Regions from separate parts of the Homo sapiens genome. Here region 2 is reported to be linked to region 1. Evidence: microRNA targets listed by miRTarBase, many of them from high-throughput screens and not tested one by one. Region 1 holds a microRNA gene; the other region holds the end of a gene's coding sequence.
What was found. The annotated mature microRNA hsa-miR-5010-5p reads AGGGGGAUGGCAGAGCAAAAUU and lies in region 1 at 2,386-2,407, opposite strand. An mRNA with a match to its seed (bases 2 to 7 or 8) in the 3' UTR can be bound and repressed. Matches are read on the target gene's strand: a 7mer-m8 pairs with bases 2 to 8, a 7mer-A1 pairs with bases 2 to 7 and ends in A, and an 8mer does both.

Region 2: miRTarBase lists VPS37D as a target of hsa-miR-5010-5p. Seed matches in the 3' UTR shown: 7mer-A1 at 3,944-3,950 and 7mer-A1 at 3,576-3,582.

Annotation. Positions count from the first base shown.
Region 1 is chr17:42,512,615-42,516,614 of GRCh38, reverse strand. It overlaps MIR5010 (microRNA 5010), which reads right to left and starts at 2,427; the gene lies at 2,308-2,427. It overlaps ATP6V0A1 (ATPase H+ transporting V0 subunit a1), which reads right to left. Exons shown (of 22, transcript NM_001130021.3): 20 at 2,637-2,754; 21 at 2,155-2,326. RefSeq lists an enhancer at 1-8.
Region 2 is chr7:73,670,937-73,675,388 of GRCh38, reverse strand. VPS37D (VPS37D subunit of ESCRT-I) reads right to left here. Exons shown (of 4, transcript NM_001077621.2): 4 at 3,279-4,375. The coding sequence ends at 4,013. Among named protein-coding and RNA genes, the nearest start is that of VPS37D, 5.3 kb to the right of the region's middle.

The DNA of each region.
Region 1 (4,000 bases):
GTGAGGTGGTCACTGTTCCCTCAAACCCAGGGCTCAAGAGACAGGAGTGAAAAGAAAAGAAAGGAGGCCAAGGGGCAAGAAAAAGTGAGTCCTCAGAGGTTCTCGTGCACTGAGGAGGGCTGAGGAAGTGTGCTTGCGGGGGTCGGCTGATAAGCTTAGAACAGGGAGGCCAGCCAGATGAGCTGGGTGGGGAGGAGGGAGGCCAGGAGGGAGAGAGCCAGGCCAGAGGAAGCCAGGTCTACTGACGCAGCAGGGCTTTTGAAGAAGAGTGCACCCTAGCCACGTCTTGCCCTTCCATGCCTCACTCTCCGCCCATCATTCAGAAAAACCCACAGCTGAATCTTTGAGGAGGCTCAGGGGTCACCCAGCCATGAGAATAATCAAAGATAAAGGGGAGTGGGGAATGAGTTTCTCAGGTTCAGATGCTGGATTTTCTTCAGGTTTTGAGAACGAAGAGAGACATTCATAGTCCTCTTCTGGCCTTGAGATCATGAACACCACAGAGCATCCCATCCAGGGGCCTCTAAGGCACACCAGTGAGTCAGACCCCTATGCTTGTAAAACAGGAGAAGTGTGTGAGTGCTCCTCTGGGGAGAGGGGCCAGAACTTCCAGAGACATTGGGGTTTTGAGACCCCCAAAAAGAGAATCACAACATAAAGGAGAAAATAGAGACCCAAAGAAGTGGAGTCTGAGGTGGAACAGCCACAGAAAATACAGACTGCCCCAGTTTTTAGTATAAGCATATCCCATGCACATTTGGGAAATACTCATACTAAAAAAATTATTTGTTGTTTATGTGAAATACACCCTGTATTTTTATTTTTTGAGACCGAGTTTCACTCTTGTTGCCCAGGCTGGAGTACAATGGCGCGATCTTGGCTCAATGCAACCTCCACTTCCTGGGTTCAAGCGATTCTCCTGCCTCAGCCTCCCAAGTAGCTGAGATTCCAGGCATGCACCACCATGCCCGGCTAATGTTTTTGTATTTTTAGTAGAGACAGCGTTTCTCCATGTTGGTCAGGCTGGTCTCGAACTCCCCACCTCAGGTGATCCACCCGCCTCGGCCTCCCAAAGTGCTGGGATTACAGGAGTGAACCACCGTGCCTGGCCCCCAACCCCTCCCCTATTTTTTTTTTTTTTTTTTTGAGACAGAGTCTCGCTCTGTTGCCCAGGCTGGAGTGCAGTGGCACAATCTCAGCTCACTGCAACCCCTGCCTCCTGGGTTTAAGAGATTCTTTCCTGCCTCAGCCTCCTGAGTAGCTGGGATTACAGGCACGTGCCACCACACCTGGCTAATTTTTGTATATTTAGTAGAGACGGGGTTTTACCATGTTGGCCAGGCTGGTCTCGAATTCCTGACCTCAGGTGATTCACCTGCCTTAGCCTCCCAAAGTGCTAGGATTACAGGCATGAGCCACCGTGCCCAGCCAAACTGTACTTTTATGTGCTACATCTGGCAACGCTGGTTTGAGGTGGTCACAGCCCAGACCACACCCCCGCTCTCCCAGTCCCAGAGGCTGAACTCATGCTCTCTCCACACACAGCCATTAAGAGTCACAAGCTTCATTAAAGAAAACAAACAGAACCACCCCAAACCTGCCCATGTGAAGAAGCTGCGTGAGTGTACCGACCTCCACCCTATAGAGCCAGGAATCCCTCCGGTCCACAATGGAGCTGCCAGGGGTCCAACTCAAAGACCCCTGGCACAATGACAGAACAAAGAGGATAAAGCTGGGGTGCAGCGTGTTCTAGCCTTTCCTGCACTTAACATACATTCCAGAGCTGCTTCCACTGTTCTGAAGACAGAAGAGTTACACATCAGAGAGAAAACCAGAAACCCTAAGACCCCAGCAGCCCCTTTAAGCCAAAATCAGGAGCACTGGGGACAGCTAAAGGCAGGGAGCGGGACCTGACACCACTCACCAGGGACATCTCCCTAGAGCCTAGGGAAGGCTGAGCTGTGCTTTTCTGTGACCATTTTCCGAAACTCTGTGGCAATGCCGGTGCTGGGGTGTCCTGAGGTGAAGCTAGTGCAGGGCCAGCTCATCTTTCCTGCACAGAGCTGCAGGGCTGTGTGTGGGAGAAAAGCTGCCCTCTCACCGCAGCTAAGGACACATCCACCCCCATGCCCGCCCTGCCCCACTGCCCCTCACCAGTGTAAGCGCAGTGCGTGGAGAAAGGCCGAGAGGCCCTCCATGATCAGGAGGATGGCCACGGTCAGGGTGGCAAAGGCAGTGAAGAAGAAGAACAGCACCAAACCTCCCGCCAAGCTCTTCACGCTCAGGCCGATGTGGATCACCATGGTCCAAAGCACCTCAGACAGCTCTGGGGAATGGGAGACACAAAATCCAGTGCAGTTTGGCAAGAGGCAGCTGTAGGCCATGAATTTTGCTCTGCCATCCCCCTGCTCTAGGGTTCCCTGGATCCTGGCTTCCCACTGCCTTAGTGGGACCACCATGCAGAGCTAACCTGGCACAAGTGCTGAGCCTCCTGTCTGTACTCATTCTCCTTGGGTTCAGGAACCTGAATAATTCCAGAACCTTCATGTAATTTCCATTTGACTTAAGCCCCCCAACTGACAGTGCGCCCACAGAGGGGGAAACTAGAGTTCCGGAGCCCGGAGAGAGGTACTCACGCGCATGAGCGAGGCTGAGGGCCCAGAGCCGCAAGTAGGAGGCAGTGTTGGAGATGCAGCCCAGGCAGTACTCGATGGTGTGGATGGCCTGGTGGACCATGGTGTCCCCAAAGTCAAACTGTCGTGGGAGGAAACCAGAGAGAAGATATAAGGCTAGGAGGGGAACGTGCAGGCATTCTGAGTTGTGGCTACTTGGCGCTTTGAACCTGGGCCAGGGCAGGGGACTGCACTTCCCATGGATGGCACCTCAACTCTGGAGGGGCCAGAAGCACCCAGTGTTGAGCTCAGGTGGTGATTTCGGCAATGCCTTCCCCAAAAATCCTGCCTGACTTAGCCCTCACCTGGGACACCTCCATTCCCCTCAATACATTACATTTTAATTAACTACATCTTAATAAGATTCTTTTCAACACATTTGTTCTTCTCCCTCTGGGGCTCTGTGCTCAAGAGAGGAGTGTGTGCTGAGTTGACGGCACTCTGTTGAGAAAGTGACTGTCTGGGTCTGGGACCCTAAGGACCTGCAGGAGGGCAGGAAGGGATTTTCCCCAGAGTGCGCTTCAGGAGACAGACTCTCAACCCGGACACTGTCCTGAGAAGACTAGGCCTCTATGGCCACTTTACTTATTCTTTTTACAGCCTTTTGGGAGCAAGATAACCTTCTTTTTCTTTTGTGACTTCTAAAGAGATTACACGGTGAATTTTTTTTTCCCTACATGATTTCACCACCATGCACAGGGAAATCCTGACAAAGTTTACAAATTTCCACATGGGTTAAGGCCAAACAGCATATCTGTTTGGGTTAAGACTAAATAGCATATCTCCAGTTTCTTGTTTGTTTTCGTTTTCCTCAAGCTCCCTTTGTCCCAGTTTTCCTTTCAATACCAAGAATTATTTCCAGAATAAAGGAATGGGCTGGAACAAGCTCTTGGGAGTGAACTTTCAGGTTTGCTCCAAGCACAGTCAGGGGTGAATGTGGGCTTCTGAATTTGGTATATTCTGGAAGCCCCAGGTACTTTCCCTGGGCCTCTCTGTCAAGCTGACCAAAGACCAGGAGGCGCTCCCTTATGGGGCTTCCCCCCGCAGAGCCCAGACCAGAATCTTCTGAGCTTTCAGACACTCCTGAGGGCTCAGTGGCCTCCCCATCGGCCCCTGCCCTCAGGTCAGGGTCTATTTTTCACCGCAGTTCCTTTCAAAACCCACGTGATTCCACTCCCAAAGGACACCAGAAATGCCTTGGGAAATCACTGAGAACATGGGGATGGGAGAAAGTGGCTTGGCTGGTAAAGCCACAACAGCCCAGGCCACAGGGGTGCAGCCAGCGTGGAGGGGGCTGGCTCCACCATGCCATCTCTGGGCGAACGTCT
Region 2 (4,452 bases), not on the chromosome of region 1:
GTGGTGAAGGTTTGAGCCCACACTGGTTGGAGCCTGCTTAGCTCAGTGAGCCTTGATTGGTTAGGAAAAAGAAAAAGCAATTTAATGTTACTATGTTTCATATTTGGAAACCAAGATGGGGAAGGTTAGAAAAATGCAGAAGCTAGTGATTCACAAACAAGGAGGTGTACATAATAGACTTTCTTGAGGAACAGGGAGCTCTGTTTTTATTAAAAGGGGTGGGAGTTTTATTTGGAGACTTCTTTGGTTTTGTTTTGTAAAAGCAAAATGGTATCTAATAGGTAGGACCTTTTTCATGAGCCCCCTGATGCAGACCCTCAAGTTTGTTTTCTCTCACAGATCACAGCCAGGAACATTCCTGGGGCCCCCTGAATCTAGAAGCAGCAAGTTCAAGAAGGTTTTAGGCAAAAGGAAGGGCCCAGAGTGCTGCACCTTCCAGAACATTCCAGAACCTTCCTGAACATTCCATGTACCTTCAAGCAAAAGGGGTTAATGATTTTTCAAACCATCCAACTGTAAGCCTTTCCATGGCCCACCCAGAACTGGGCCCACTCCACTCTGGTGGTGTCCATCCTCACCTGCCTCCGATCATTTTCAGGCTGGAGCTGAACACAGAGGGGTCTCACTCCCTGCCCCTCTAAAGAAGAATCAGCTCTGTGCAAGACAAGGTGTGTGGGAGGCCTTCTGAAGGACCCCATCTGGTTCCCATGGTAACACTTCTTCCTAGTCCCTCTCTTGTCCATGTCTCAACTTTCTCTGCTTCTTACCTACCCTGAGGAGGGGAGGCTCAACCTGGTAGCTGCTGCCTTCTAAAGGCTGCTCCCCAATTCATGATAGTGGAGAAAGGTCCAGACCTGCCCAACCTTTGCCCCTTTTTACCTTTTGGTTGCAAACTCTACACCATGTCAATCATGAAGGAGAGCCAAAAAAAAAAAAAAAAAAGTGGGGACCGGGCACTGTGGCTTACACCTGTGATCCCAGCACTTTGGGAGGCTGAGGCGGGCGGATCACGAGGTCAGGAGATGGAGACCATCCTGGCTAACATGGTGAAACCCCGTCTCTACTAAAAATACAAAAATAATTATAATTAGCCAGGCATGGTGGCAGGCGCCTGTAGTCCCAGCTACTCAGGAGGCTGAGGCAGGAGAATGGCATGGACCCAGGAGGTGGAGCCTGCAGTGAGCCGAGATCACGCCACTGCACTCCAGCCTGGGCGACACAGCGAGACTCCGTCTCAAAAAAAAAAAAAAAAAAAAAAAAGCCAGGTGCGGTGGCTCACGCCTGTAATCCCAGCACTTTGGGAGGCCAAGGCGGGCAGATCACCTGAGGTCAGGAGTTTGAGACCAGCCTGACCAACATGGAGAAACCCCGTCTCTACTAAAAATACAAAATTAGCCGGGCTTGGTGACACATGCCTGTAATACCAGCTACTCGGGAGTGTGAGGCAGGAGAATGGCTTAAACGTGGGAGGCAGAGGTTCCAGTGAGCCGAGATCGCTCCATTGCACTCCAGCCTGGGTGAGAAAAGCGAAACTCCATCTCAAAAAAAAACAAAAAGCAAAAAAAAACAAAAAACAGCAGGGAACCATGCATTTTCAGAAAAATGGGACAAAGGTACTTTTTCGTGGGAATGGACTGCTTTGCACCCTGGAAGCTTGGACCAGGAATGGGAAGCCAGGGCAGGAGGGGCCCATCCTGCCCCAGACTGTGCTGAGAAGGAGAGCATGGGGGAGAGGTCTTCCAAGGCTGCTCAGTCTTTGGTCATATCAGCAGGAACTCAGCGGTTCTGGTGTCCCTTGGCCTCCAGCAGCTGAAGTGCCAGCAGTGAAGAGAGTAGAACCAAGACCAAGGTGGGATGGAGGTTCTAAAGTGGGCACTCTCAGTGCTTAAACTGTGCCTGTACTAGGGGGACACTCTGACTGTCTAGGCCTGAGGCTCTAAAGCTCCCACAGCCCAATCCCTCTAGCTACAGCCGACATCTCTAAAAAGCCCATCAAGCAGTTGCTGCCCCCACATCGTCAGGGATGGGGACCATCCACCTCACAGAACACCCCTAACTTTTTTTTTGGGTGGGGGGACGGAGTTTCACTTTTGTCGCCCAGGCTGGAGTGCAGTGGCGTGATCTTGGCCCACTGCAACCTCTGCCTCCCGGGTTCAAGCAATTCTCCTGCCTCAGCCTCCTGAGTAGCTGGGATTACAAGTCCCTACCACCATGCGTGGCTAATTTTTGTATTTTTAGTAGAGATGAGTTTTCGCCATGTTGGCCAGGCTGGTCTTGAACTGCTGACCTCAGGTGATCCACCCACCTTGGCCTCCCAAAGTGCTGGGATTACAGGCATGAGCCACCGCTCCTGGCCTCATCCCTAATTTAAGAGCCTCAAACGGAGCCAAAATCCGGCCCCTTACGGTTTCCACCAATTGGTCTTAGCTTTGACCTGTGGTTCCCACCCACTGGTCTTGGCTTTAACCTCTGGTTCTAGGTGACCCAACCCTTTAGAGATTCAAAGGCTGAACATCACACACAAACACATTTGAAACAGATCCCTCAACTGTTCCTCACTGACTGTTCTTTCTCATCCTTGTTTCTCCAAAGGTGCCATTTGGGGCGGGTGGGGGGAGGGGACCCTCTTCCAGTAAAAAACTTAAGTGAAAAGCAAAGCTACCCCAACACCTTCCTCTTTCCAGATAGTTATGTCCTTATTAACATGGACCAACACCATATTAGCTTTGTAGGCTTCCACAACACTGTGACTGTCCCCTTTTGTTTGCAAGAACTTCCACGCCTCCCTGCCAAACTGCATCTCATTGGACTTGACCTAAGCTGACCCAGGGTATATCCCACCTCCTTGTTCCACAATCATCAGCCAAACTGGCACCTAGCATTCCCCCTGGCTGAGGACAGATGCCATCAGTCCTGCAAAATGCCCTCCATCACTCCGTGGGGACCGTCATTTGGCAGGCCAGAGAAGACCAGGTACCATCCCGATTGGGCTTATGGGCAACCCAGGAAAAGATGCGTACAGGTGAGGCAATTGGAGAACCAAGATGGAGCAGTGAGCGCTTCTGACTGGAAATGCCGGGAAGTTAAGATTTAGGAAAGGCTCTCAACGGGTTGGTAATCAGAGAAGGCTTCATGGAAGAGGCAGCGGCGGTGTTGGACCCGGACAGCTGGGCTTTGCATGGGCAGAAAGGAGGGGAGAGCATCTCAAAAGTAGGAAGTGGAAGCACAGGAGCTGAGCTGTGGAGGCTGCAACAGCAGAGAGGAGTCGGGCAGCATCGTCATCCTCATCATCACATTTATTGACGGCCCCTAAGAGGCGGGGCTGGGGACAGAACGTACAAAGACAAGGACCTGCCCTCAAAAAGCTTCCATTCTAAGGAGACAGGGACAGAAAAATACAGAATGGTCTTTCCTGGGTATGGCCCACTCTCACCTGCACAGGTCAGAAGCCCCTGGCCTACCTTGCCCCAGGGTCTGGAGCATGTGTGGACACGTAGTAGCCCCAGGGCCATGGTGTCCCTGGCCCCACAGCCGAGGCCTGATCACCTGGCTCCTAGGCTGTGGGCCCCAGAATTTGGGGGAAAGGTAGGCTCAGGACATGATGTAAAACACTCCTGGCGGCCTTGGCGTTGTGCGAGCCCAGTGGAGTGGTGGGGTGCGACAGGTCCCCTTGGCAAGGCCCCTAGGGGACCCAGGCATCTTCCCAGGCCCCTGTAGTTGAGTCAAGTTCTTTAACGGGGCTGGTCCATCACCCTAGAGGCCCCGGGGCACGGAAACAAAAAAGGCAGGGTGTCTTCAGCGCCAGAGGCATAAAGCCCTGCCCACCCACCCCCAGCCCCCTCTCGGGCCTCTTCCAGGGGACCCTCCTCCCCAGCTCAGCCTCCAGGGCCAGGGCCTGCCTGAGGCCAGGGGGAGGGGCCTGCCCCTCCCCCCACCCAGGCAGTGGGGGAGGAGGAGGAGCCACGCATCAAGTTTGTCTAGGCCCCCCAACTGGGGGGCCGCACCGTGGATCCTACCGGTGGGGGGGCTCTGGCTGCGAGGGCCGAGGGCTCAGCAGGGGGGCCGGGCCGAGGGGGCACCCGGGGGAGCCCTTCAGTGGGGGCACTGGGCGGGAGTCCAAGGGGGGCAGGCTCCGGGGCACTGCTGGTGGCCCCCGGGCGGCCCCAGTGGGCAGGACAGCTGCAGCCGGGAAGGATTTGGGGGGATCAGCAGCCGAGGTGGGGGCCGGCTGGGCAGAACGCTCCCGACGCCGCAGCAGCTCCTGCAGCTTCTCTGCCTGCGTCCGCCTCAGGTGGGCCAGGGCGCGGCCACGCTGGAAGGCAGGCAGGAAGGCCTCCAGGCTTTGCTCCCCGAGCAGCAGCTGCTCCATCTGCTCCTGGGCCGGGAGGGAAGGGAAGGCTTGGGAGAGGCACGACCACAGACTGGGGACTGGTCCTCACTCCTTCCCACCCT